Linked DNA regions of Homo sapiens: region 1 is linked to region 2. Evidence: fine-mapped expression QTL. Tissue or cell type: whole blood. Region 2 holds a variant in brackets; the other region holds the start of a gene. All regions are shown on one strand. Distances are from middle to middle.

What was found. PIP is the estimated chance that this variant, and not a neighbour inherited with it, causes the effect.
Region 1: it holds the start of NINJ1, and the variant in region 2 is fine-mapped to the expression of NINJ1 in whole blood (INTERVAL, PIP above 0.99).

What each region holds. Positions count from the first base shown.
Region 1 is chr9:93,132,682-93,135,357 of GRCh38, reverse strand. It overlaps NINJ1 (ninjurin 1), which reads left to right and starts at 1,107. Exons shown (of 4, transcript NM_004148.4): 1 at 1,107-1,215. The coding sequence starts at 1,141. LOC124902212 (a long non-coding RNA gene) reads right to left here and starts at 2,346. Exons shown (of 3, transcript XR_007061665.1): 1 at 1,765-2,346. RefSeq lists enhancers at 1-393, 1,853-1,902 and silencers at 363-412, 913-1,142, 1,313-1,562.
Region 2 is chr9:93,109,303-93,111,978 of GRCh38, reverse strand. CARD19 (caspase recruitment domain family member 19) reads right to left here. Exons shown (of 6, transcript NM_032310.5): 3 at 1,258-1,411; 4 at 41-100. Among named protein-coding and RNA genes, the nearest start is that of CARD19, 14 kb to the right of the region's middle. The variant G/A (reference allele first, on the strand shown) is at 1,376.

The sequences.
Region 1 (2,676 bases), 23 kb before region 2:
TCCTGCAGATCCCCTCTGAGGCAGAGCTGGGGCAGTGACAGCCTGAGCCTCAGTTTCTCTGCTGTGAAGTGGGCCCACGACAGCTCCTCCTTCATGGGATGACCCCGTTTGGAGGATCAGGGCAAGCGCAATCCTGCTGCCCTGCCCATGCCCACTCACTCCTACCTCCTGTCCCGGTGGCAGCCTGACTGGACAGAGCCTGGGGTCTGAGCTGGCCTTCCTTCCACTGCCCTTCTGGAAATAGAGTGGCCATACTGCCGCAAGCTGACTATGCTGTGGTCAGGATGAACTCCCCTGGCCTCCCAGGGTGGCCGCCACATGCTCTCGACCCCCAGGCCCCCAGATGGGCAAAGTGCTGAGGAATGAACATATGGAGAAACAGAGACCAAACAACCACTTCAATCATACAACAGGTGGGGGCCCGCCTAGCATCTGGCCAGGGCTCTGGGCACTGTGCTGCCCCCAGCCCACCCCCTGCCACAGGTGGCACAGATGGGCCCATGAGTCAGCGCACGTTCATCCCCTTTGTGCCTCCCCCAGCCCCTCCAGCAGTCTGTGCCCTCATAACCCCCATTTCCCAGGCAGGAAAACCTAAGGTCAGGGAGTGGGAAGCCCTGTGTCAGCGTGGCCCGCAATCAGGGGAACCCCGGACTCTCTGACGCTGTTACTAGGGGCGCAGCAGGCGCTGTGCTGGAGCGATCTGCGGTTCCCAGGGCGAACCCCGCCTGGGAAAAACCCAGCGTGGGCGCCAGCGGCAACGCCCGCTCGCTTTCATGCAGTTTGCCTGGTGGCCAGGGAAAGGTCGTTCTTGGCCTCATTTTGTGGATTAAAAGTGTCCGCGACGGAGGTTCAGAGCAAGACGCAGCGCAGGGTCCTCTGGGGCCATCGGCGTCGCGCCCCCTCCCTTGTGGGGCCCCGCGGGACCGTCTCAGGCCCGAGGGGTTGGGGTCGCCCCAAACTGCGCGCTCTCAGCGTACAGCCTCCAGGCCCCGGGCCCGCCCCGGGTGGAGGCGGAGTCTGGGGCAGCAGCTCGCCGCCGGGCGGGCCGGGGGCGGGCCGGGGGCGGGCGCGCAGCTGGAGCCTGCGGCTGAGGCTCGGGCGCGCTCAGGCCCGGATCCTGGCGGCCTGGGCGGCCGCACCATGGACTCGGGAACCGAGGAGTACGAGCTCAACGGCGGCCTGCCTCCGGGCACACCCGGCTCCCCGGACGCCTCGGTAAGACCTTCCCCCCACCGCTGCATGATCTTGCCAGGCCCTGTCCTTTCGGGGCGCCGCGGCTCCCCGGGCACCTGTGTGCGCCGCGTCCGCACTGCAGAGTGTTGGGGGACGTCCCGCTCTAGGCCAAGTCCTTCCCGCCCCATCAGGGTCAGAACGATGCCCCCGGGAGCTCCAGCCACCCCCGGCAAGTGGGCGGGACGAGGGGGCGTGGGGGCGCAGGGCGGGCTGGCGTCCCCAGCCCCACTAAGCAGCGCCCGCGCTTGGCTGCACGGCGGAGGGGGCCTCGGCGCAGCTCCTCGGGCTAAGGACTGCCGGCGCCCGGCTTTCCCGACCTCCCCCCCACTCTCGCGCGGGCCTCTCTAACTTCAGCCTCGCCGTGCCGGCTCCTCCGCGCACTTTGCCCGGAGGCGGGCGGAGGGGAGTCACAGCCTCCGGGCTCCAGACCAGCTGCATGCAGACAGTTACGTCACCCCACGCTGACCACACAATCTGATGCGTGCCTTGATGGGGGAACTTGGGGCCCGCTGTGGTCCCTATTCCACTCACCTGCCTTGAGAAATAGAAACGTCACACAGCCTTCAGTGTATGCCGCCACCGGCCCTCCAGAACTTGCCCTGCCCGGCCTGGGAGGGCTGTGGGCAGGGGGCAGGCCCTGGTAGTGGTCCCGCTTCAGAATTCTTCATCCCAGGACTCAGCACTTACTGAGCACCTTGTGTTTGTTGCAAGGTCCTGGCATGGCCCTCTGGTGACTTGTTTACTTTGAACATTCTTTCCTTTTCTAACCCCCTCAGGGATGGGGGCAGGGAACAGCAGCCTGTTGGGTTTTTCCAGGCCTCTCCATGGCGTGGACCAGACTGGGGCAAAGACACTCTGCCCACTCGCTGGTGAACAGTCCTAGGCCGGTGCTGTGGGGACAGGACATGTTCGGGGAGGCGGGGCCCCATGAGCCACGGGATAGGATGGCCCTGGGGCTGCATGGACACTTGTTCCTAGGTTAGAGAGGAGCTGTCGCACTGCAGGACTTGACCGGTGTGCGGGACCCCAGCGACCTGGCCCTGCCCCAGTGTGTGAGCACTTTGGAGCAATAGGCAGGGGGCTCCTCCGGCTGTGTGTCCTTGGGAAGTTGCCACACCTCGCTGGGCCTTTTAGACATGGTCTTATAAAGAGAGAACAAAGGGTCTCTCCTGCCTTCAGGGAAGTGGGGAAAGCAAGTCAGGTAATAAACAGGTCAGTGGCTTGGAAGCGCCTTGGAAAGGAAGGGATACTGCTCCTCCCCCAACCCTGACCTTGCCCGGGCAATGCCCTCCACTCAGAGCAGTCTCTGCTCACTTCTGCGGGCGGCAGGATAGGCTGTGCCTCCTGAGATGGGTGCATCTCAAGCCCAGAGGAGATTGGGTTGGATTTGTTCCCGGATCACTGTCTTGGCTCTGGGCACCAGAGGGAGAGAGACACAGCCCC
Region 2 (2,676 bases):
AGAGAGGGAGAGAGAGGGAGGGGCAGCAGGGAGGTGTTACCCCTGTTACTCAGCTCGCCGCTCTGGCTGCCCGAGTCTAGCTCTGTGCAATCTGAGTTCTCTGGAAACAAAACCACAGAGCATAGTTAGTCAACGGGCAGGGCCGGAGGGCAAGGTAGTCACCCCGCAGGAAGCCCAAGGTTGCTGCTGCCTCCTGGGGCCGCCAGGCCGAACCAGGCTGTGGCACCTGAGGCTAGCCCTCCTCAGGGAACTATGCACAGTCTGGGTCTTCTCCTCTGCTCCAACTCCTGGACGGGCCTAAAGGCACCCGGGAGCCACAGAAGGTGCTCTACCTCCAGTGGGGCCAAGGCTTGGCCCTGCCTGGTTTTGAAAGCCCCCTGTGGCATACTCGTGGCTGGGGAGGGAGAGCCAGTCCCACCTGCAGGGCTGGGCCTCCCCTCGAGCTCTCCCCGCCCACCGTCTGCACTGTGTTCTGTGAGGCGTGGGGAGGCCTCCAGGGGGTCAGAGACCACAGCCCAGTAGCCTGGGACAAGCCGCCCAGTCCCTCTGGTCTCTGTCCTGTTGTCTAAGGGCCAAGGGGCAGTAGCCCCTCCTCCAGGGGCCCTGAGCACAGAGGCGTCAGATCAGAGTTGCCATCTTCAACTTGATATGCCCCCCACATCCCAGCAGCTCTGTGGGCCCAGGCTACTGGCATCCACATGACTCCCAGGGCCTGAGTCCACACTGCCTGAGGACAGGAGCCTCAAAACTGAAATGCACGTGCTTCGGACCAGCCATCCGTGCCTGACAATGTCCTATGGAAACACCCACACGTGTGCAGATCGCTGCAATGAAAGGGTCCGTCATGGGGTTGGGTAATTCCAGCTGGGACCGCCTAGGAGCGCCATGCAGCTGTGGGAACAAGGTTGCTGTCCACACAGACATGAAGGGATCCCCGTGGAATGAGGTTAGAAAAGGAAGGGCAAGAGTGGACGTATAAGATGCCCCATGCTGTGTGAAAACTGCCATGAGAGAGAGACGGAGGAAGGGGGAGAAAGTGGGAGACAGAGACCAACATCTGCACTGCCTGTGCCTGCCACACTCTCCCCTCGGGGCCAGAGGGTGGCCTCTGGGGAGGGGCTGAGGCGAGAGGGGATGCCAGGCCTGGGCTGCAGCAGACTTGGGTGGTCATGGAGGACATCCATGCCATCAACGGCAGGCTGGGGTGCCCTCCCCGGGCCAGCACCAAGCATGCATGGTTGGTGATGTGGAACTTACGCAGAGCGTGGCGGCTGGGCAGGCGGCTGTGCAGGGGCTGGGCATGGATATACAGGGCTCGGTAGAACTCCTGGCAGTCCCGCTCACCGCTCCGCTGCAGGTGGCTCAGGAGGTCACA[G/A]AGCCGCACACGCAAGGATGCCTTGGGGTTCCGGAACTGAGGGTACAAGGGGGTGCCAGGGAAGATCAGGCCAGGGGGGCTGGCTGTGGGTCAGGGCAGGGCACCAAGGTCAGGCCCCCAGCCTCAGCTTCCCTGTTGGGTGTCAGGACACCTGCTGGATGGCAGCTCCTGTGACAACCTGCCCCTTACCCACACCACATAGTGCCTGGCATTGCCTCTGTCACAGGCATCACTGCTACTCCTCATACTCCCTGTGGGGTGGGAGGTTGGGAAACAGGCTGGGAGTGGTCACAAAGAAAGCATGGGGCTGGCAAGGTGCGGTGGCTCATGCCTGTAATCCCAGCACTTTGGGAGGCTGAGGCAGGCAGATCACGAGGTCAGGAGATCGAGACCATCCTGGCTAATACGGTGAAACCCCCGACTCTATTAAAAATACAAAAAACTTAGCCGGGTGTGGTGGTGGGCACCTGTAGTCCCAGCTACTCGGGAGGCTGAGGCAGGAGAATGGTGTGAACCCGGGAGGCGGAGCTTGCAGTGAGCTAAGATCGTGCCACTGCACTCCAGCCTGGGCGACAGAGCAAGACTCCATCTCGAAAAAAAGAAAGCACAGGGCTGGTGACATCATTCCAAGTGTTGGGACATAGTGTGGCTTCCTGTGTGACCTTAGCCAGCTACTCCACCCCTCAGAGACTTGGTTTCTTCATTTGTAAAAAAGGGATAATGAACCCTCATGGTAGGCTGTGACAGGGAATTAATGAAGTGATGGTATAAGTGCTAACTTCTGTTATTTTTCAGTCTACAGAATGTGATTCAAGTTTTAAAAAAGTAAGTTGAAGCCAGGCACAATGGCTCATGCCTATAATCCCAGCACTTTGGGAGGCTGAGGCAGGCGGATCAGGAGTTCCAGGTCAGGAGTTTGACACCAGCCTGGCCAACACGGTGAAACCCCATCTCTACTAAAAGTACAAAAAATTGACTGGGCATGATGGTGCATGTTTAATCCCAGCTTCTTGGGAGGCTGAGGCCAGAGGATTGCTTGAAACTGGGAGGCAGAGGTTGCACTGAGCCGAGATCATGCCACTGCACTCCAGCCTGGGCGACAGAGACTCCATCTCAAAGAAAAAAAAAAAAAGACAGAAGTATTGGCTCTTTTGATGTGTATGACAGAGAAATGTGTGGTTCTCAAGGTCAGTGGACAGGCCACTGGGCCTTGACCTCCAGGACCTGGAGTCTGTGGCCTGGTGCTGCCACCTGGTGGCAGCATATCATTCTACATGGCCACAGGGAACTGGAGTTAAACC